Regions from separate parts of the Homo sapiens genome. Here all the other regions are reported to be linked to region 1. The links are microRNA targets in miRTarBase. Many come from high-throughput screens and were not tested one by one. Region 1 holds a microRNA gene; each other region holds the end of a gene's coding sequence.
Evidence for each region. Region 1 holds the annotated microRNA hsa-miR-6733-5p (UGGGAAAGACAAACUCAGAGUU, at 3,006-3,027, opposite strand). A microRNA usually pairs through its seed, bases 2 to 8, with sites in the 3' UTR of a target mRNA and lowers its output. Matches are read on the target gene's strand: a 7mer-m8 pairs with bases 2 to 8, a 7mer-A1 pairs with bases 2 to 7 and ends in A, and an 8mer does both.

Region 2: the mRNA of E2F3 is a reported target of hsa-miR-6733-5p. Seed matches in the 3' UTR shown: 7mer-m8 at 1,946-1,952 and 7mer-A1 at 2,540-2,546.
Region 3: miRTarBase lists TBC1D2B as a target of hsa-miR-6733-5p. Seed matches in the 3' UTR shown: 7mer-A1 at 1,361-1,367.

Annotation. Positions count from the first base shown.
Region 1 is chr1:43,168,681-43,177,017 of GRCh38, forward strand. MIR6733 (microRNA 6733) reads right to left here and starts at 3,032; the gene lies at 2,972-3,032. It overlaps EBNA1BP2 (EBNA1 binding protein 2), which reads right to left and starts at 3,610. Exons shown (of 9, transcript NM_006824.3): 1 at 3,373-3,610; 2 at 3,206-3,289; 3 at 2,799-2,971; 4 at 2,076-2,199; 5 at 259-348. The coding sequence starts at 3,438. It overlaps CFAP57 (cilia and flagella associated protein 57), which reads left to right and starts at 3,650. Exons shown (of 23, transcript NM_001378189.1): 1 at 3,650-3,773; 2 at 4,055-4,230. The coding sequence starts at 4,074. RefSeq lists enhancers at 2,685-3,321, 3,147-3,376, 3,322-3,957, 3,507-3,636, 3,717-3,766 and a silencer at 3,877-4,076.
Region 2 is chr6:20,489,983-20,497,567 of GRCh38, forward strand. E2F3 (E2F transcription factor 3) reads left to right here. Exons shown (of 7, transcript NM_001949.5): 7 at 186-3,732. The coding sequence ends at 448. Among named protein-coding and RNA genes, the nearest start is that of CDKAL1, 41 kb to the right of the region's middle.
Region 3 is chr15:77,991,793-77,999,377 of GRCh38, reverse strand. It overlaps TBC1D2B (TBC1 domain family member 2B), which reads left to right. Exons shown (of 13, transcript NM_144572.2): 13 at 1,023-4,393. The coding sequence ends at 1,218. It overlaps LOC91450 (a long non-coding RNA gene), which reads left to right and starts at 5,153. Exons shown (of 1, transcript NR_026998.1): 1 at 5,153-6,145. It also overlaps the pseudogene ADAMTS7P3.

The DNA.
Region 1 (8,337 bases):
CATCTGGACCCAGTGTACAGATGTGAAAACTAACGCCCAGAGAGGTGATTGGCTCACCTGCAGTCACCATACTACTCCTGGGGAACCACTCATGTCCAGGCAAGATTGTGCTCATGAATACCAGCACATACACTGAGAGACGGTAAATACATGATCAACACACAGTTCCGTTCAGTTCAGGGGACCAAGTCAGACCACGGCAATCTCATCTAACACACACTCCGCCTCTTCCTGTTCCCTGCACACTTTTCTTCTCACCTTCTTCCCGTATTTCCTAAGTGCTCGCAGTTGCTTAGCTTTTTCAGACCTCTCCATGGCAGCCTGTTTAGTCTGCAGCTTCTGTCGAATCTACAACACAAAATGCTGTCAGTTCATGTCATTTGAATCTGGAATGACCACTACTTAGGATTCGCTAGAGCAGGGAACAGATATTCCCTGTTCTTTAAACTGCGGAACTTATAAATCATCAGTTCCAACCCCTGAGGACAATGGGGCCCACAGGCTGAGCACTTTACCAAAAGTGCCAGAGTGAAGCCAGAGATTGAAAGTCACCTTCCCGCTCCCAGTGTGCTGTCTGTTTCATTATACAAACTGCCTATTTGTAGCCCAGGAAAGAAGACAAACTTCTCCCCATTTCTACTGTCAGTAGACTGAGGCTGGAAACCAGTATGCGGCCTCAGTGTCCTTTTCTAGTATACCACATACACAATAAAAACCCAGGCAGATACCAGGTGCCTAGCCTTTTCAGTCAAACATACACATTTTAGTTAAAGGATGAGAAGTTGTCAGTGAGAATTTGTACAGAGTTCACAGTAAGAAGGTGAACTACTACCACGACAAAAGCTCCCTAAAATCCAGCTTGAGACCCCAGGGTACTATTTAAATATACTTATCCCTCAGTATCCATAGAGGATTAGTTCTAGGACCCACTACAGATATCAAAATCCACAGATGCTCAAGTCCTTTATATAAAAATGGTGCAGCATTTGCATATAACCTACACTCGCCTCCAGTATCCTTTAAAGTCAGAGGACCTCAACTCCCAGGCCACAGACCGCTACGAACCCACTATGAATCTGTGGCCTGTTAGGAACCAGGCCGCACAGCAGAAAGTGAGTGACAGGCAAGCAAGCATTACCACCTGAGCTCCACCTCCTGTCAGATTGGTGGTGGCGTTAAATTCTCATAGGAGTGCGAACTCTACTGTGAACTATGCATGGAACTATGCATGCAAAGGATCTAGGTTGCCTGCTCCTTATGAGAATCTAATGCCTGATGATCTGAGATGGAACGGTTTCATCCCAAAACTATCCCCTCCCCAAGTTCATGAAAAAATTGTCATCCACGAAACTAGTCTCTAGTGCCAGACCGCTTCTTTAAATAGTCTCTAGATTACTTATAATACCGAATACAATGCTATGCATCACCTCATTCTCATGGATTCAATGTAGTTCTCGGCACACGGAAAATTCAGTTTTCCTTTTGCAATATTTTCAAATTTTTTTCCCCAATATTTTTGATCCAAGGTTGGTTGAATCCACAGATGCTGAACCCATGGCTATGGAGGGCTGAATGTATGTTGGATTACATGCTGGCAATCCCTTCTTCCAAAGTTAAATGAGGTCCAAGTTCTACCCAACTCTAAATTGTACTATATCTGAACCATCTAAGAATCCCTCATTTTACAGAGGAGAAAACTGAGGCCCAGAGAAAAGTAATTGTCTACAAGTTCTAGCACTGACAGTGGCAAGGGCACAAGAATGCTGTCCTCTCTGCACACCATGTCATGACCATGCCAGCTAGGAAATGCACTGGGCCATCTTCACCTCGGGGACCACACTTCACACAGCACTGTTCCTCTCCTTAATTGCTGATTTTAGAAAAAATGTCATTTTTATATGCATCTAATTGGTGGTAACTGGCATGACTCTGAAGTAGCCAATCTATGGAAGAGGTAATAATTGTCCTCTGACAACTGGCTCCCCGTTATTGGGCTCATAGCTATCTTTCTAAGCCAGCTGAATATGCTTAAGTACAAAGTTTTGACTTTCCAGAGGAAAACTTCTATTTCTTACCTTCTGCATCTGCAGATCAGATTTGGCCATTTCCGCAAAATAATCAGTGGGTCGCTTCGTAGGGACTTTGAGCTGATGGAGGCGGGGTAAGACTGCAAGCACTGCGGCCTGGGCTTGGCGATAGCTGAGAATCGTAGGACAAAATGTGTAATGAGGTGAAGGAGGAGGCCTTACGTTCCTTTTCACCGCCAATCATGAGTTATCCAAGCTCAGAAGGACTCTCAAAATCTGACCTCCATTAGCAAGAACAAACAAACAAAAACTGTCTCACTGATTTAGTATCTAAAAGAAATGTAGCCGTATACTAGTTTTTAAAAAGGGGAGGGGTGTTGCTAAAAATAGTTTAAGAGAATGACTACTCTAAAGGTACCCATTAACACAAACGAATGTCGATTATGGATTCTTATGTAATTACTAAAGCAATTCCACACAAGAACATCCCATAAGCAATGTTTGTTTGTTTGTTTTCCTAATAACTGAAGCATGCACAAAAAGTTTTAACATGAATATTTCAAATTAGCCCATAAAGTGGATTTTGGATCGTGACCGTGGACCAAAGAGCTCTTCTCTCAAACAGGAAGAATCTCCTAGCTATTCTTAGTCAAAAGAAGCCGCTCTCTCTACTCCTAGGCTTATTCTGAGTGCAGACTTACTAATTTCCCCTCTTTCCCACTCTCCTGCACAAGGATCCTCAACTTCTCCAACATTTGAAAACAAACATACAAACTCATCTCTCGCTGGAAGTCGTCTTCTGGATCAACAGCTTTCTGGTCCTTGTTCTGAGGTGCTGGCGCCTCAGATCCACCGATCTCCGGTACCGGACCCAGTGTCACATCGAGCCTTTCAACCCATTCCAGATCCCGCTTGAATTCTGCCAAACATTGCTTCAGGCCATTCTAGGAAATCCAGACACTGAGCTCACAAGAAGGGAACTCTGAGTTTGTCTTTCCCAAGCACAGGCTGTTAGGCGAAGGGACAAAGTGCTAATCCCCAATACCCAGACAGGTAATTGACCCTCTTGGCGAGGCGCAGGGTGCATCTTTCCTGGGACAAGAATCGGTCTCCCAAGCCCAACAGCGCCTGAAGCGCATCCCATGTCCGAGTACCCCCGACCCTGTGCCCACGCTCACCACGTCGTTCACGGCCTTCTTCGGCCCCTCTAGCACGACATTGAGGCCTGGCTTCAGAAGCCCTCGGGAAAACGCATCCTGCAACTGCAGGACACAATCACGGTCACTCCCAGGGGTGTAAGGCCCCCTCTCCCACGCCCAGCCCCACGAGCTCGGCTGACACCTACCTCTCTGTCTGTGACAAGGGATTCATCGGATTCCGACTCCGAATCCGAGAGCGGGGGAGTGTCCATCTCGCCGCACGCACGTCCCACACCTACAGGAAGAAACGGGGTATCCCGAGACCCAAGCGGCTAGCAGAGGGCGGCCCTGGCCGCTGCTGCCTGCCTTCAGCCCCCTACTCCCACGCCGTGGCTCCACGTGCCACCGAATCGCTCCAGCGCCAGCAACTCACAGCTACTGCTCAACTTTTGATTGGGACTTCCGCTTCCGGCGGCAAACCATACTTCCGGTTTGTCGTTGCTATAGGAACCGCTACGGCGTTTGAAAGTGTCCGGGTTGCTTAGGATCCCTACAGGTAGCGCCTCTGGATACATGCGTGGTCTGCTGACCCAGAGAGAAACGAAAGGTGGGAGGGGGTACCTGGGGGTCGCCAGAAGGAGCTGGTAGCAGTGAGGGTACAAAGGAAAAGGCAGAAAAAGGAGCCGCGGGGGTGGGGTGGCGCGGAGGAGGACCCCGGGGGAGGGGAAAGGGGAGGGACAAGGGGAGGGGAAAGGGGAGGGACAAGGGGAGGAGAAAGGGGAGAGACAAGGGGAGGAGCAAAGGGCGGGGAGGGCGAGTCCGGGCCGGGGGCGGGGTCGGAGCGGGGCGGTGCTCTCCACTCTGAAGCGCTGCCTTGGTCTTCAGCAGAACTGTTTGGCGGGAGATCATGTCAGCCGTGGTAGCTCAGACGCTGCATGTTTTTGGTCTTCGATCCCACGTGGCCAACAATATCTTCTACTTCGATGAACAGATCATTATATTTCCTTCAGGAAATCACTGTGTGAAGTACAATGTGGATCAGAAATGGCAAAAATTCATTCCAGGTAAAACTTTTTCCATCCTGACATATACAGGAATGGTATGTGCCACATATAACCCCATAATCCCAGCATGATGATTGGAAAGAAAGATTTTGGCCAATTTGAATATATATGCAGTATTATAAATGTAGAGGAAATAAATGGCGACTTGTATTATGAAACTAGATTAATCAGTCACGCATATGTAGTTAAAATCACATATAAAATGTTAATTTAAAAGTACTTTTTTCACTGTAATTTCATGAAAATATGTTAAGAACCCCTCTTTTGGTGTCTTCAATATCACTGCCTTTGTCATCACCAGAGCCACTTTTTGAGTTGTCTAACAGTTTTCCTGAGCACACCACCTTCATTATATCACCGTTTGAATCCAAGTATGATGAAGACACTGTAAACTTTATCCCAAGTCGCAAATAACCATTTGTATAGCATTACAGCCCTTATTTTTGTTCACAGTGGTCCTGTTAATGATATTCATTATTTCAACAACCGAATCCATTTTCCCATTCTTTGTTGCATTGACACCTTTTATTGTGACATATACATACAAAAGAATGTACCCTACATATATGTCATATTTAAAGAATTACAATAGAATGTAGATCTGTGAACCCAGCCACCCAGCATAGGAAACAGAATATTACCAGTTCTAGTGCTTCTCCCTGTATTCTGTGTCTTGCTGCATCAGTTCAATGTCATGCTTTTGAGATTCACACATCTCGATACATATAGCCAAGTTCATTTTATTGCTATGTAGTGTTCCATCATATGAATATAATGTCTCAAATATATGTATTCACTCTAATATTGAGGGACATTTGGGAAATAACAATCATTTGCTATTACAAACTATACTACTATAAACATTCTTGCATGCATATACATTCATCTATTTGTGCAGATTCTCTAGGGCACACAGCCAGGACTAAAATTACTGAGCAATATGATAGTACCAATTTACACTCCCACTAGAAGTGCATAAGAGTTCTTATTCCTCAGCAACCCTGCCAACCCTTGGTATTGTCCAACTTCGTAATTTTTTGCTAACCCAATGGTTGAGAAAAGGAATTGTGGTTTTCGTTTGCATTTTGCTATCATTAATGATGATGAGTATCTGTTTATGGGCTATTCCTATTTAGTCGTATGTTAAATGCCTTGTTCAAGTCTTTTACTTGTTTTTTACAGTTTGTTGTGCAGGATATTTTTGGGCAATTTTATTGATTTACATGCACAATTTATATATTCTGTATATCAATAATTTGTCAGATATATATATATGTCTTGCAAATAATTTCTTTCAGTTTGGGGCATTTTTCTCCCATCTTACAAGTATCTTTTGATGGACAAAAATTATTAGTTTTAATAAAGTCAAATTTATCAACCACATAATATTCTGTTGGAATAAGCTGTATTAAATACAGTTGACTTTAATTTATTGATGTTTATTTCCAGCATATTTGCTAAATTATTATTAATTCTAATGATTTGTCTATAGATTATGCAGAGACTTCTACATAGACTATCATGTTATCTACAAATAACGATGACTTTCTTCCTTTTTCTTGTGTTACCTGTGCTGGTAAGCACCTCCAGACAGTGTTGATTAGGGGCAATAAAAATGGACATCTGGCCAGGTGTGGTGGCTCATGCCTGTAATTCCAGCACTTTGGGAGGCCAAGGTGGGCAGATCACGAGGTCAAGAGATCAAGACCATCCTCGCCAACATAGTGAAACCCCGTCTCTACTAAAAATACAAAAATCAGCTGGGCGTGGTGGCACGTGCCTGTAGTCCCAGCTACTCGGGAGGCTGAAGCAGGAGAATTGCTTGAACCCGGGAGGCAGAGGTTGTGGTGAGCCAAGATCGCACCACTGCACTCCAGCCTGGGAAACCAAGCCAGACCCTGTCTCAAAAACAAAAATAAAAAAGATCATATGACTTTCCAATATAAATTAAATTATGGTTTTCTACAGACAACATTAATTTATATTTGCTCTCATACTTACCAAACTTTTTCCCACCATTACTCTTTACAAATCAGATATTCCAGCTGGGATCATTTTCCTTCTGCATTTACTGATAATGTATTAATAAATTCTCCCAGTTTTTGTCTGAAAATGACTTTATTTTATCCTCATTTCTGAAAGATAGTTTCAACAGGTGTGAAATTTTTATCAGCATATTATAGATCATATTCCATTGTGTTTTTTTGGCTTCTCTTTTGTTGCTGTGGTTAAGAAATTAGCTATCAGCATCGTCTTTCTGTAGATGATCTTTTTTTCTGGATGTTTAATATCTTCTCTGTCTATGGTGTGTGTGTGTATGTATCTATACACATACACCATATACATATATACGTATAAAATACACACCATATATACACACACCATATACTATATGTACATGTATATATACATAGTATATATACATACATATAGATACAGACACACACATCAGTATAGTTTTTATTTTCATTTTTTATCCTCCTAGGGATTATTTGAGATTCCTGGATCTAAGGACAGGTATCTTTTTTGTTCTGTTATCTCCTTCTGGAACTCCAAACCATCTCAACTCCATCCTTCCAGTTTTTTATTTTATTTTATTTTATTTATTTATTTTTTAAGAAACCAGGTCTCACTCTGTTGCCCAGGCTGGAGTGCACTGGCACAATCATAGCTCACAGCAGTCTCAAACTCCTGGGCTCAAGCCATCCTCCCCACCTTAACCTCCTGAATAGCTGGGAATACAGGCATGCACCACCTTGACCAGCTAATTGTTTTTATGGAGATGGGGTCTGGCTATGTTGCTGAGGCTGGTCTTGAACTCCTGAACTCAACTCATCCTCCCACCTCAGCCTCCCAAGTAGCTGGGATTACAGGTGCAAGCCACCACACCTGACGTTCATGTTTTTGGGTTTTTTTTTTTTTGAACTCTTATTTGGATTTTTTATACCTTACTCTCTCTGTGTTGCATTCTAGATAATTACTTTAGATGTATCTCGTAGTTCATTGCTTCTCTTTTCTGCTGCATCTAACTTAATGTTTAATGTATCCATTGAGATTTTACTTTCAGTTATTGTGCTCATATTCTTACACTTCTTACTGTATCACTTCTCTTCTGCTCCTAACTCCATCTTATATCACCAGGGGCCTTGTACACATGTGGGTGGATCCTTGCAGCCCATATGTTCAAATTCTACCCATATATTCTATAAGCAACCACCCTGTGCCCATCCTTCAGGCCCAGGTTGAGTAGAGACAGCCTGGGAAGAAACCCCCAATGTTGGTCTTGTCAGCAGGCTCAAGACTATCTGAGCAGGGAACTCCAGAGTCCTGGGTACCTGCAACGTGATCTAGAAGAGGCAGGACAAACTCCAGGCAGCCACTGTATCCCACTTAATGGTAAGGGGTACAGCCAGAGAAAGACTCCGGGATGCTCTAAAATTTGAGGCCCAAGGGAGGATCTCCACTGACCAAGTCTAAGGGTATTACCGGTGAAGGGAAAAATATAAAGGTCATGACATTGGGAGACCTGGCTTTGATCTGGCTCCCCATTTTATAGGCTCACAGAGCCTCAGTCTCCTCATCTGTAAGATGCAGATGATGCTCAGCTTGTTCAGCTCAGAGTCATGATGAGGCTCAACATATTCATTTGTTCACTCAACAAAAATGTATTAAGTACCCCCTGTGTTCCAGGCACAAAATAGACACGCACATATGCACATAAAATGCTGTCCTCACAGTGCTTCCATTCTAAGAGGGGAGAGTGACAAACAAAATAAAAAGAAGTACAGTCTACATGCTAGATAGTGATAGATGCTAATAAGAACAAACAAAGCATGGAAAGTGAAGCCGTTGGGGGAGTAAGAAGTTGTAGATAGGGAGGCTGGGGAGGGCTCACTGAGCAGTGATTTTTGAGTGAAGACTGAAGGAAAGGAAGGAGCTGGCTGTGCTGATGTGGGAGGGCAGGGGGAGTAGCCGAGAGACTAGCAAAGGCTCAGAGTTAGGAGGGTGCTTATTGTGTTGGAGGAATAGCTGGGAGGCCAGTGTGGCTGGAGTGGTAAGAACCGGGGGGTGAGGAGCAAGAGGGGAGGCAAAGAAAGAATGGGGAGC
Region 2 (7,585 bases), not on the chromosome of region 1:
GGGGGTGGCAAGGAACTTTTTTGTACCTGTTAGCATAAAAGGTGATCTGCATCATAAAGTCGTCTCATTGTCATTATTTGCGGAAGGTACATGCTTTTTTCTAACAGCAACATATACATTCTTCCAGAAAAATTCATTTGATTTTTCTAACTTATTTTTTGTTTCCATCAATGTTTTCTTTTCAGACTTGGCTTCAACCAACTCAGGACATAGCGATTGCTCAGTTTCTATGGGAAACCTTTCTCCTCTGGCCTCCCCAGCCAACCTCTTACAGCAGACTGAGGACCAAATTCCTTCCAACCTAGAAGGACCGTTTGTGAACTTACTGCCTCCCCTGCTGCAAGAGGACTATCTCCTGAGCCTCGGGGAGGAGGAAGGCATCAGCGATCTCTTCGATGCTTACGATTTGGAAAAGCTCCCACTGGTGGAAGACTTCATGTGTAGTTGATTATGCTTCGTGTGAACTCTCCTTAAAAACCGATATTTTTTTATCATGGAACCAGAACATCTGTCATGCAGTGTTGTCCCTTCCTACCTTCTTCCTCCAAGAGAGTATCATGAAGTAAACTACAAACTTCAGAAGAAAGCTGACATTTTAATGAATTTTTTAAAAAATTAATAAACAAATTGTCTAAACGCACAGTTGCAGGCTCCCTTGGGAAAGCCCTGCTTTGCTCCAGGCTCCAAGATCTCCTGGCTAAGTCAGCAAGTGAGAAAATGTGCAATCAGGTGTCTCTCACCCCGAATTGTCCTTCCTCCTTCCTCCCCGGATTGGCTTGCTGTGCCTGACGGATGGGCTGTAGAATGGGGTCTGGCCACCTGGCCTGCTGGGAAACAGCAATCTTCCTTAATAGCATTTCAAGCCGTGCCTTCTCCGCAGAATGCATGTCTTTGAGGTCTGCTAATATGGAATGGAACTGCAGCAAATGCAAACTTGAAGTCATGCAAAAGTATGAAATGGATTTCTTCAGCTCTTCTTAGGAATATTTAAATTACTGTCATAATTCAGTTTAAGCTATGAACTGTGTGTCCCAGTAGGAGGTCAAGAAAACCTCCACAGCCTTCTGGATGAAGAACCTGTTTTCAAATATACTTGTTGCAGATACAGAAGACTAGTAGAGTTCTGCCACTCTAAGCTGTTGTGGATTTTCCTGTCTCCATGAACCACTCCCATTCCCCCGTCCCCAATGTGTTTGTGAGTTTCCAGTTGATTTGTAGCAAATGCCTACTTAGTTCTTTGTGGATTGTTCTAGACTTTTAATTTTTTTAGCTGCCATTTAAGCATTCCTGTGGCACCCATCACCATTTCAATTTAATTGTTTACTTTGAAGCGGTTTTTGCAAATTCATATTACTTAAGCAGAGGGAGAGAACCTCTACTGATCAGAGCATCTAAACCTGTGTGATCTAAGGTTTATCAGCCTCTGCAAGGAGCTTTGTCCCATCGTGCTTCCATTCCCAGGAGGGGGAGCTTGGAGCGAGTCAGTCCTGGGGCTTGCTGACATGGGTGGCCCATTGGAAAGGAGAACCAGGTCAGATGATGTAACAGCCCCAAGGAGCAGCAGGCATGGGTCCCTCCATCCTTGGGCTTCCCGGGCCCCTGTGACAGGGGAAAGGGCTCTCTTACACCGCACTCAGGGAGACCACTTCTCAGGATGGGGTCAGATGGAGAGACCTCTAGGGAGAAAGACATCCCCATTGTGTGAGTGGCATTTCCTTAAGCTGGCAGGAACAGGGAGCAGCCCTGTGTCGGGGGCTGGAATAGTTCTGGCCAGACCCCGTTCCCCTTCCTCTATGAAGGAATAAGTTGGACCAAGGGAAGTCGGGGACGTAAAAAATGAAGCAAAACAATGCCAGGGTGTCTCCCGCTTTACTCTTCAGGAATGGTGTCCCAAGTTGGAGGCTTTGTGTCAGCTGCAAATCCTACCAGTTATGTCCAAGAATGGCTTTCCCTCGGGCAGGTGGCAGCGGCCATCTCCCACTGGGAATATGGCGTAGTATCTCCGGTCCATTCCTTGGATGCTAAGGACTGCGGGAATGAGGGAGTCAGATAAAGAACAAACCTCGAAACGAACAGTTAAATTGAAATGCTATGTGCCTGACCCAATGGTAGGCACATAGTAGGCACTCAACTCATATGTTTAATTGAATTGAAAATATCCCTTAGGAAAAAAAAAAAACACACAAAAAACCACAAGAGCCCCAGCCAGTTTACTCCAGGTAGATTTCCACAATATGCAAAGTGGTGGTGGGGTCAAGACAGATGACACCAGCACTTTAAACTCTTTGTGTGGGTATGCGTGGGTGTATGTTTGGGAAGAAAAACAAAGGTGCAGACTATCTTCCTTTTTTTCTTCTTCAGCCTCCATCCCTGGCCTCCTCCCCTCACACACACTGGACTTGGTACAAAATGTCGGTGTGGTCCTAGATGAAGCATTGGGGTGGGGGAGGGAGAGGGAGCTTTGTGTTAAGTGCCTACTGGAAATGCACTGTGGGGTTTTTTCCTGTATGGGAAACCATTTATGCCAAGCTTTTCCCCATTTCCCATATTTATCTCATCTGGTTAGCTGCCTCTGCTTCCAGCTTTGTGTAATTCTCTTTGCCAGCTGCACAAAGCTGATTTTTTCCAAAGTCTAAAGACTGAGCTCACCTGGCTAGATTGTTGTGTGTTTTGTTGAATTTTTTCATAATGTAATGCCGTATTTATTGTTTTTAAAATGAAAGGAATACTAATAAGTCTTAAAAGTTCCTTCATGCATAAGATTTTTTTCCAGTTACTGGGTTTAACTGGTGTACATTAATTAGATGTCCATACTGTATTTTGTTTGCATTAAGTAATTTTCTTTTTGACTTAGTATCCGGCACACAAAGTGGGTTAGTACTACAGTATTTGCGTTACTTTAAGTACTAAGTATGCAGGTTTCCTGGTACCATTGAGTTGCTGCTATTAAAGCTCACACACGAAATGGCTAAAAGTTACAAGTGTGCAAATTATGACTGCGTGAGCCTTAGAAAATAAAATGTATAAAGGGCAACACATGAGCTGTCAAACAGTGTTAGGAGTGTGTTTATATGTACAGAGTTGTGCATAGCAATCGTTTTATTTAAGTTGATATGTAGTCTACTCACATTTTCATTATTTAGCAATTTTGTACAAAAATAGCAATTAATTTGTAAACACTGCCAGAATACTTTCTAGCTGCTTTGTAATTTTTTAAGAGTGTTATTTTGTTTTTGTTTTTCTGTTCTTTGTTGTGGCTCTTGTTTTCATTTTTGTTGTACGTGTAGATCTGTAAATAAAATTGCAGTATTTAAAGCTTAAGCTTTCAGGAAAAAGAAAATAAGAATTCAGTGTGTGCATGACAACTCGTGTGTATGAGAAGGAGGGATATGAAGGAAGATGGCTTGCAGAGTAAGTCGGGTGGCAATTGTCAGGGTGTGGGAATTTCTTTTCCTACGGGGTACGTGATTTTGTAAAAAGGAAGTATTTCTCCCAAAATTGGGAGTAGGCAAACTACTAATCAGTTTAGCTTTGTGTTGTATGCTAGTTTAAAAAAGAAAATATGTAATATAATGTAAAAAAAAACAAAAAAAAGCTTTTATGATGGATTTTGTAAATAGATTTGTTACAGGGTGACCTGTTCTCTAGCTGTGATCTTACCACTTCAAATGGGTGTAATTTGAATAAATTTTGTATGGTAAAGGATCAATAAAATGATTTTTTTTAAGAGTTCAGGCTTGTGGATGGGTTTTCTTTAATATTATCTTGTGCTCCTCTATTAATTGAATTTTTTTCATTTTCTTTTTCTTTTTTTTTTTTTTGTTTTGTTTTTTGAGGCAGAGTCAATCACTCTCACCCAGGCTGGAGTGCAGTGGCACAATCTTGGTTCACTGCAACCTCCACCTCCCGGGATCAAGTGATTCACCTGCCTCAGCCTCCTGAGTAGCTGGGACTACAGACACCCGCCACCACGACTGGCTAATTTTTGTATTTTGAGTAGAGACGGAGTTTCACCATGTTGGCCAGGCTGGTCTCGAACTCCTGACCTCAAGTGATCCGCCTGCCTCGGCCTCCCAAAGTGCTGGGATTACAGGCATGAGCCACCGCGCCCAGCCTATTAATTGAATTTTTTAAAACATTCTTAAACAAGTTAAGGAGAAAGGCTAAACAAAAGCTTAAAACATCGTTTGCCTTAGACGGTATTTGGGACTCAGAACACTCAGCAAATATTTGGTGACCACTTCCGGTGTGCTCTGCACCCTGTGAAGTAGAACTTACCTTGTCCCTTTGACCATGTGCAGAAACCACTCGGACACTGAGTAATTGTTACACTGAGAAAGTGACAAATTTGACTCCTCGTAAGGGTTATAAAGCCAATACATTTTAATTCTGAAATCTGGTAATTACCTCCCATGTTCTAGATTGTGTATTTCTAGTAATGCCATCTAGGAGCAGATTTGAATTTTTTGACTGCCATGTCACACTGTTAACTCTGAACTTATCATTGAAAAACCTCAAAGTGCTATATATTGTACACACACAAAATCAATATAAAAGGGTATGAAGTTTAAAAAAAAAGGGCAGGGGGGGACGTTACCTGCCCCTCTATGCTATTCATGCCAGAGATAACCACTGTTCGCATTTTTCTTGTATTATCCTTCCAGTCATTTTCTAGGCACATATCTGTGCATGAACATGTGTATTTTATTTTATTTTGTTTGTATTTATTTATTTGTATGAGACAGAGCCTTGCTCTGTCGCCCAGGCTGCAGTGCAGTGGTGCAATCTCAGCTCACTGCAACCTCCGCCTCCTGGGTTCAAGTGATTCTCTTGCCTCAGCCTCCCGAGTAGCTGGGATTACAGGCATGCACCACCACGCCCAGCTAATTTTGTATTTTTAGTAGAGACGGAGTTTCACCATGTTGGCCAGGCTGGTCTCGAACTCTGGACCTCAGGTGATCCACCCGCCTTGGCCTCCCAAAGTGGTGGGATTATAGGGGTGAGCCACCAAGCCCGACCTATTTTGTTTTGTTTTTTGTTTTTTGTTTTTGTTTTTGTTTAGAGACAGGATCTCACTCTGTTGCCCAGGCTTGAGTACAGTGGCACCATCATGGCTCACTGCAGCCTCAGACTCCTGGGCTCTGGTGGTCCTTCCCGCCTCAGTCTCCTGAGTAGGTGGGAATAGTAGGCGTGCACCACCAAGCCTGGCTATTTTTTTTTTTATTATTTTTGTGGAGATGGGGTCTTGTAATGTTGCCCAGGCTGGCCTCAAACTCCTGTCCTTAAGCAATCCTCCCCCATCAGCCCCCAAAAGTACTGGGATTACAGTAAGCATGTGTGTTTTAACATGACTTAACATAAGTCATACCATATATGCTGATCTGAAGCTTTTTATTGCTATGTCACATTTTTCCATGTGAGTACTTGTAGATCGTGTTCATGCTCTTCAAAGGCTGCATACCATTCCAGTGATTTAAAAAAAAAATTTTTTTTTTTTTTTGAGATGAGTCTCACTCTGCTGCCCAGGCTGGAGTGGAGTGGAGTGATCTTGGCTCACTGCAGCCTCTGCCTCCCAGGTTCAGGCAATTCTCATGCCTCAGCCTCCCAAGTAGCTGGGATTACAGGTGCCTGCCACCATGCCCAGCTAATTTTTGTATTTTTAGTAGAGACGGGGTTTCACTATCTTGGCCAAGTTGGTCTTGAGCTCCTGACCTCAAGTGATTCACCCTCCTCGGCCTCCGAAAGTGCTGGGATTACAGGGGTGAGCCATCACGCCTGGCCTAAAAATGTATTTAATAATATACTTAGGTGATTTCCTGTTTGAGAGATAGTTTTGCTCATTTTGCTATTAAAAAAATGTAAAGTTTTTAGAATGCTTGTATGTCAGGTACTATATATTTGATGTGGTATAATTCTCGTAACAAAATTTATCATTAGTAACATTTGATAACATTCACAGTGCTGTATAACCATCACTTCTGTCTAGTTCCAGAAGACATTTTCATCACTCCAAAAGGAAACCTGTGTCCATAAATTAGTTACTCCCTATCCCCGACACCTTGCAGTCCCTGTTTTCTGCTTTTTTGCCCCTATGGATTCACCTGTTCTCTATGTTTCCTATAAATTGAATCATGCAACATGTGGCTTTTTGTGTTTAACTTCTTTTTTTTTTTTTTTTTTTTTGAGATGGAGTCTCTGTCGCCCAGATGGGAGTGCAGTGGCGTGATCTCGGCTCACTGCAACCTCCTCCTCCCAGGTTCAAGTGATTCTCCTGCCTCAGCCTCCTGAGTAGCTGGGACCACAGGCACCCGCCATTGCATCTGGCTAATTTTGTATTTTTAGTAGAGACGGGGTTTTGCCATGTTGGCTGGGCTGGTCTCGAACTGCTGACCTCAGGTAATGTAGACAAGATGAATTTGCATTAACCTCATAAAAGTTGATATAGGCTGGGTGTGGTGGCTCGCATCTTTAATCCCAGCATATGGGAGGCCGAGGCAGGTGGATCACCTGAGGTCAGGAGACCAGCCTGGCAAACATGGCGAAACCCCGTCTCTACTAAAAATAAAAAAATAAAAATAAAATTAGCCGGGTGTGGTGGCAGGCGCCTATAATGCCAGCCACTTGGGAGACTGAGGCAGGATGATTGCTTGAACCCAGGAGGCGGAGGTTGCAATGAGCCAAGATCGCGCCATTTCACTCCAGCCTGGGCAACAGAGCAAGACTCTGTCTCAAAAACCAAAAAAAGAAAGGCCAGGCACAGTGGCTCACGCCTGTAATCCTAGCACTTTGGGAGGCCGAGGCGGGCGAATCACAAGGTCAAGAGATCGAGACCATCCTGGCCAACATGCTGAAACCCTGTCTCCACTAAAAATACAAAAATTAGCTGGGTGTGGTGGCGCGCGCCTGTAGTCCTAGCCACTCAGGAGGCTGAGGCAGGAGAATCGCTTGAACCCAGGAGGCGGAGGTTGCAGTGATCCGAGATCACACCACTGCACTCCAGTCTGGTGACAGAACAAGAATCTGTCTCAAAAAAAAAAAATTAAAAAAAGTTGATACAGAACTAGGATGTTTGAATATTTTATAATTTAGAACCTTACCCAAAGTACTGTTTTAGAAATGGGTTTCACTCTGGGGAAAATTTATAAATCAGTTTCAGTAGGGAGATCCCAAGGAAGGGAGGAAGGGAGGGGAGGGAAGGAGGGAGGGAGGACTGAAGGGAGGGAGAGAAGAAGAAATCAGATCAGTCGTAGTAATATTGCGAGACAGAATATAAAACAATACAGAAAAGTGAATTGTATTCAGTGATTCAGTAACCATTAAGGGAAACAGGGTCAGTCACCCTTTGAATGAATATAAAGTGATTGCTGGATGCCAGGAACTGTTCTAGGCGCTGGAGTCCACATTTAAAAAGGCCTAGGTCCTGTCAGGAAGAGGAAGTTTGCAGTCTAGTGTTCAGGGAGAAACGAGTTTTAGCTAGGAGAAGCAAACCGGAAGGCCGGATGTCAAATGAGCTATTTTTCTGACTGAAGCCATTTTTGGAAGAATTGGAAGGACAGATGGTTAGAGGCAGGAATGGAAATGGAAG
Region 3 (7,585 bases), not on the chromosome of region 1:
TTTTGAAACATAAAAGGTTGCACCCTCGTGTGTGCCTTGTGTTAAAAGGAGCCCACGCAGCCGACGGCAGCAGGAGCAAATGGCCTGCTCTGATGGGGACAGGCAGGAAGTCCTTCGGGGCATTTCTGTTTCATCACAGCTTTTCCTGGGGCTGGTGAGTCTGTTGGGCCTTTGGTTGACAGGGAAGCGCATGAGCCCATGTTGGTGGATACAAAGCATTTGGGGCCTGGCAGAATCCAGAGAGGGGAAGAAGGTGGCCCTAGGAACTGGCCTATTTTGTGATCCCCAGAGACCAGTGTGGCTGACCCATTAGTGCTACAAATCCATAGCCAGGCCTCAGGACAGCTTTTGGTCTTGTTTTTATTAAGCCACTGACCAGTGGTTAGGAGCAAGTGGATCATAACCTTAACATTTTTATTGAAAATTGGAGCCTTGACCTGGGGATGTGAAACCCACAAGCTGCACATTTCTCTGTAGACTGCATCTGGACACTTGTCACATTGCCAACTGGGTCTGACAGTCATCGCCAGGACTGCCTGGGCCTGTGTTCATTCCCAGTCAATGAGTCCTGGGACACAGACGTCCCGGACTCGTGCCCGGTGCCAGGCCTCATGCCCGCCCAAGGATGAAGACATACCTGCCATCACCATGCAAGTGCCGGGAGCTCTTCTCAGGGCTTATGTGTGGGAACACGAGTAATCCCACACCCTAGGAGGTGGCACTACTCTTACCCCAGTGTGCAGATGAAGATCAGAGGCCAGAAAAGGGGGGTGACTTCAGTCACACAGCAAGCATGTGGCAGAGCTGGAGTCCAGGTCGTCATTCTGAGCCTGCCCCTGGCTGGGCCATTGTGCTTTGTCACCTCTCTACAGAAGGTGGGCCTCATCCCCTACATCAGGCCCCAAGCCTGGCCAGCGCTCTTCCCACCCTGCCCCAGGCCACCTGCTATGCCTGTGAGGGCTGTGTGTGAGCACTCTCTGGAGCGCCGCTGATTCTCTTGTCTCTCCCCTGCGTCCTGCCAGGAAGCTGATCAGTATCTCCTTTGGGGACCTGAACCCTTTCCCCCTACGCCAGATCCGGAACCGACGCGCCTACCACTTGGAGAAAGTCCGGCTGGAGCTGACCGAGCTGGAGGCCATCCGTGAGGACTTCCTGCGTGAGCGGGACACCAGCCCTGACAAGGGTGAGCTGGTCAGTGACGAGGAGGAGGATACCTGAGTGGGCTCGGGATGCTGCTCTTCCTTCCTTCACAACCAAAGTGTGCCCAAAGGGTGAAAGTGCACTTAAAAGCCAGAATGTAACGTGTGTGTCCTCTGGGGATCTGCTGGGCAGATGTCCCAAGCCAGGCTGCCCTTCCTCATTTCCCACTGTGCGGGGGGCAGGGGTGGGAGGTCTAATCTGTTTACAACCATTTCCGTGCCATGCTTTTGGTTACACGTATCTCAGTCACGCTTTCTGCCTGGTTGGTGGATCCTCAGGCTTACCAGTGGCTATTTGCAAGAGCCTGTTTCCAGCCTCCGTCAGCCTGTCGGTGCTCTGACCCTCTGAAACCTTGCTTTGCTGGGCATCTCCCCATATTCTCTCTCCTGTACATAGTGGGCAGTGGTGTGTGGTTTTGAATGGCAGTGCTATAAAGGATGCCAGCTGTGCTTTAGGCACCTGTAGGCCAGAGGGTTGCTGCCTCAGGCATAAGGTTGGTATGAAAAGGGGCTGCCTTAGAAAAGCAGGCACATCCCTTGTTCAGAAATGGCCACTGTAGGAAAGCCTGTGAACCTCCCACCAGTGGCTTTAAGCTGCCAGCCATGCCCCATTTCTAGAATAGCCTTTGCTCTTCCACACGCAACCCTTCCATCAGTGTCTTCCAGCCTGCATGGGGAGGGCCTGGCTGCCCAGACACCCACCCTCACTTCTCATGGCCAGCCTGTGTTTGCAGATCACTGGGCTGCTCTGTCCCCAGCTTGCCCCGTGCCAGGCATGGCTCTGTGAGATTCTGTGGAATGCCCTTCTTGACTTGTGGAAATCATTCACCAAGTACGATGGGATGGGATTCCAAGTAAACAGTGGACCGTCATATTGCAAAGCAGGCCCACGCCTGGGCTGGCCTTGGTTGAGGGGATGGAGGAATGTTTTCGGGGGTGCTTTGCAGGGCAGTGGTGCAGCCGCAGCGTGAACGCTCTTGGACAGCTGAAAACCATGGCCTCCTTGGGGATGGCCAGTGCTCCTGGTGTCTCCACCTGCCTGGGTTGTGCAGGAGGCCGGCTGCCAGTGCCTGGGGCTGGGAAACTTTTTTGCTTGGGGCAGGCTTGGGTGAGCTCTCCCAGATGTGTGCCCACCCCACCACTGCCTGGAACATCCTTGTTCTCTGCCAGGATGCAGGGGCACTGTTGCCTCTGACACAGCAGTTTCTGGGAACTCAGAGGACTGCCTTTCTGAAGGCTGGGGAGAGGCTTTGAGCAAGGAGCTTGTTTTTGCTTAATCGCTCTAGACCATCCCTGATGCGTAGATGTGAGAGGATGTTTTCTGGCACAGTGTTATGAAAATACAAGATAAATGATCTCAGTGGAATGTTTCATATTACCCGAAAAAAACTGGAAATCATCCTTTGTTGTGAACACACTGAGACTAAGAATTGAAGCAATGCAGTTTTAAGAAGTATTTTTCCTATTTTTTGCTGTCAACTTTTTGGCAATGCCACGGCAAAGTTGGTGTTTCAGCACATGCTAGAGTGAGCTCCGGCTTCGTGTCTTTAACCAACTCCACTAATGTTTCACTGGGTAGACGGAGCTGGCCTCTATATTTAGCCAGAAGCCTTTGCCTCTTTTCAGGCATCAAAAATGGGTTTTGTCATTGTCTTTGTCTTTGAGAGCAGCAGTTTGAGGTCTGACTCCTTCAGTTGTCCTGTGAGCTGGGCGTTGCAGTCTGCTCGAATCAAGTGTTGGAACCCCCCCCACCCCTCAGCCCATCGTGAAACGACAGCTGTCAGCCTGGGGGGCGGCTGCTGAGGAGGTGCAGCAGGAATGGGGCTGGGCCCTGAGGTTTTACTTTCCGAGCCAATGGCCCCTGGAACATGCCAGCACACACTGCCATGTCCTGGGGCTAAGAGCTGCCTTTAGGGACAGGCTCGTGTTGTCCAGTTTGCCCTGAGAGATGCACCTGACCAGGGGCCCGTCGTGGCTGCAACCCACGGTGGTATGTTAGTGTTTCCAGGCAGTTGTCAGCAGCTGCCGGGCAGTGTGTGTGTGCGACAGCAGGAGAGTTCCTGGAGGAAAGGGACTGGGGACACTTTCTCAGAGGTTCTCCTGCCTGGAATCAAGTGATGCGTGTCCAGAAGGCAAGAGAGGGCGGCTCCGCCTGGTTAAAGTTTGGGAACGGGACGGAGCCAACTCCTCCTTCCAGGACTGTGGGCCCCACTCTTTTGCGCTAACACTTCCCCTCCCTCGGGTCACTGAGGAAAGAGCTGCTCTGTCCCCTCCAGTGCCCTGAAGGTCCCTGGCCTCCACTGGCTGCCATGGCAGGGGGCCCTTCTGACAGGGGCTGCCCCAAGCTGCTGTTCCTCCTCTGAACCTTCACCCCAACACCCAGCCCGTGGCCCCTGCAAGGGGGACCCTGCCAGCTGGGAAACCCAAAGGCCTGTCCAAACGTGCGCACCAGGACCGAGGGGAGCTCCCTCCCAACACCTGCTAGGAATTGCCAACTTTTAAATGGATGGGGTTTTTTATGGGTTGAACCTCTGTTAATACTTTTGTACACTCTCACTACAGTTTATATTTTTATAGGCTATTTTCTCAAGGTGTTTCTAGATTCCACATATCTATTTTATATAACAAGTTATTATGTTATGTGTGTGACTCCCTTGTGTGTATCTGTGCCAGCCTCAGCCTCCGAGTTGCTTTTCCCTCTGGCCCTGACTCTCACTGACTCACCGATGTGATGTGCAGGCCCACTTCTTACCCCAGATAGCCTCGGGCGCTGCCTGTAGTCATGCTGACAGCTGTACAGTAGCCGCCAAGACTGCTGACAGCTGGAGACGGTTCTGGTTTCAACTACGGTATATTGATATCGGAAGTATTCTAGACAGATCCTCGGTTGGGTTTTCTAGCTACATGTTTGTATTGCACAGATCCCCACCTGCCATCCTATAGTGTTGTCTTCCTGTGTGTTCCGGGGCTTCTGGGCAGCTGGGCCTGCCCGGGGAAGTCCTTGCAGGTGGGAGGCCATACAGAGACCCACTGTGTGCCACTGAACGTCCCACTGCTGCTGGGCAACTGGAGGACTGCAGGGGGCGCCAGGTGACTCTCTCCTTTTATATCACAGCAGCTCCTGTGCTGACCTTCAAGTTACGTTTTGGAACTGTAATACTAAAGGAAGAAATAAACTACTAATTTGTATAATATTCTGCATTGAAATTCAGTTATAGTCACTGGTGATGGGGCTCACCCCAAGGGCTTGGAGGGTGGGGCAGGGCTTATTGGTGTTGCGGGGGGCGAGGAGGGGCTCTCCAACCTTCCAGCCTGGCGTTTCTGGGTGTCTCTGCCCTTGGCTCACCCTGGGGCGGGTGCATCAGGATGCCTTTGCCAGCAGGGGCAGCCTTGGGAGGCCCCAAGAACCATGGCCAAGCTGCAGGTGTGGGCTGGGGGCACCGAGGTGGGAAAGCCGGAAGCTGGAGACTCCCTGTGTCCGGATAACCCCCCGCCCAGCCACAAAGAACAGGCATGCCTCCTTCCGCCAGCTGTGCCATGCCCTGCCTGAGTCACAGGCTTGTTTGTCTCCTGCCTGGGCTGACAGCTCAGGCCCAGCTGCCACTGGGCACACCCGCAGTCATCAGTGGAAAACACCCAAGAATGATAAAGACCAAAGGGGTTCCCATAGGGGTGTTTCGGGGTGGCTCCAGCAAGGATTCCCAGACAGGGCAGGCCAAGGCCTGGCAGGCTTTTCTCTTCTGCGGACATGGATTCAGCGAGGCTGGGGGTTCCTGGAGTCACGCAGCAGAGCGGCGGCGGCAGAGCTGGGGCAGAGCTGGGACAGGGACTGGCTCCGTGTGTGGGTCAGGAGCAAGTCGACAGGCCCTGCTCCCCACCCCTTGGAAGGGAGTGCCACCAGGGGCCGTTCTGACTAAGGCCTGGGAAGCCATGACTCAGAGCTTGGGTCCCTAGAGTCTCTTTGGGCCAGCCGGGCTGCTGCAGACAGACAGGAAGCACGCCTGACGCTCCTCTACCCTCGGGCAGCACAGCGGGGCTGGGACTCACTCTAGCTTGCCCAGCAACTTGCTTTCCTGTGTGAACTCTGGCAGGCTGCCCTCTCTGTGCAAAGCTGCCACTGGGGCCTGCTCAGGGTGGCCTGGAACTTGGAGGTGGGCAGTCAGGGCCTAGGATGGGCCTGTGTCACCAGGGCATGTGCCCTTGGGCCAGTTACTTCCTCTCAGAGCCTTGGGCTCCTCCTCTGAGGATGGGGCTTGTTGGTGTGAAATGAGGTGAGCATGTTGAGTTGGGGAGCAGCAGGACACGCACCTGCAGGCAGCCGCCCTGGCCACGCTCCCTCCCTACCTTCCGAGTCCTGGGACAGACACAGTAGAGCACAGCGGGCCAGCCTGCTCTCTTCTCTGTCTACTTTTTGCAGAAGAGTCAACAGATACAACAGGCCCAGGGAGGTGCCCCTGGGGGCCCCAGTCCCCATCACTCCAAGGGGCAGTCCTGCAAGTGACAAGGTGGGCCCAATCCCTGTGGAACAGGTCTCTGAGGACCACAGAGTGGGGCCCCAGGGAAAGCTGGGAGCCGAGCTAGAGGCAGGCAGCAAGTAAGGGCCAAGCTGTGCCCCTGCCCGGAAGACCTTCCTGCCCCCAGAACCCGACCCTCCGCAGATAGCCCTCCCTGGGCAGCAGCCCCCCAGCTTCCAAGGCCCGTGCCTCACCAGACGCCATGCTCTCACGGACTTGTTTGCTGCTCTGTACCCTGCAGATCTGCCCCAGAGGAGCAGGTGAAAAGCCGCGCCTGCCGAGGTGCTGTGGCGGTGGAGTTTTGGGCAGAGGAGTGGGGGGAAGAGTTTCTCACTTTTAAGATTCTCCAAATCCAAGATGAAGTCATGCTGTGCTTTGGAATGGTAGATGCTCATTTATGTAAAATCATAATAAATGTTACACAAACTGTTAGAATAAAAAAATACTTTTTTTGAGGGGGGAGGAGGTCCCCAGCCTGCCGCTGGATAGTGAGAGGGGGTTAGCACCATTAGGGCGTAGGGCGTAGGGCGTAGGGGGCAGGAGCTCCGCCACAGCCCATGGTGGGCACTGAGGTCTGTTGGTCGGTCTGTGCATCCTGGCACGGTCAGTGGCAGGCAACCCGCTGATGGCCTCGGGAGCGGGCGCCGTGGCTGGGCGGAGAGCACGAGCGGCAGCAGTGGGTGCGGACAGTGGGCAGCTGGCAGCAGCCCACTAGGTGCAGCGTCTCGCAGAACCTGAAGGACAGGTGGTCCCGCTTATAGCCTGGAGTGGGGGGAGTGGGGGGAGTGGGGGGAGTGGGGGGGAGTGGGGGGGGAGTGGGGGGGAGTGGAGTGGGGGGGGAGTGGGGGGGAGTGGGGGGAGTGGGGGGGCGGGGGATTGGGGGGGGTGGGGGGGCGGGGGGGGCATCAGAACCTGGCTCCCCACCCCAACCACCTTAAGGAGGCTCCAGCAGCTCCCCACCAAGCAGAGTGCCCCGGTTTCAAGGTCACACGTCTCCAGCTGTTGCTATTTCTGTCCCACCTGCTCATGGCCAACCCCAGGATTCAAGAACGGGCGCTGCTGGGCTGAAGTTTCTGGAGGAAAGGTCTTGAGACCCCACCCTGACCCCCTCACATGCCCATAAAAGAGCCTGCCCAGGGTGACACCCTGCCACCCCATCTCCATACTTGCTCACCCCTGGTATTCCCCGACAGATCCTGGCACAGAACTGAGGTCCCAGGGGCCTCCTGCCAGCCTGCAGCAACCTCTGCCGTCCACTCCCGCCACCTCCCCCTGCTCCAGTGCACCTATCCTGCCAGGCCTCTGTGACCACCTCCAGCCACGGGGGCTGTACACAGCCTCGGGTTCTGAGTCACAGGGTCCCATCTCCCAGGCCAGCCTCCCACTTCTCAGGTGGGCCACAAAGCCTAGAGTGAGTGGGCCTTACAGGCCATCAGTGGAAACCAGGGACTGAGCCCAGGCCCAGTGGGGAGGGAGGCCAGCTGCAGGCTGTGCTTGTCAGGGCTGAGGCTTGGCTGGGCCCTCCTGCCCCATGGTTATCAGAGCTATTTTGGGATGTGGCTTGTTTCCAGCCTCCTAGCCTTGCTCCTGCTGCTGCCGCTGCTGCTAACAAACCCCAGGCCCTGCTTACTCCAGCAAGAGGAGCAGGAGGACAGCAGCCAGCCCTGGGCCTGGGACATCCCCCAGGCCCGGCAGAGGGCACGAGGCAGCAGGCAGGCTCCTCCACCCCAGCTCCAGGCAGAGCTCCAAAGTGCACATCTGCAGGCCTGCATCCTGGTCGCCCGGGGTGACCTCAGACAAGCTGCTTCACCTCTTGGGCCTCGGTTCTCTCCTCTGTCAACCCCACCTCCACAGCAAACGGATATGGCCATG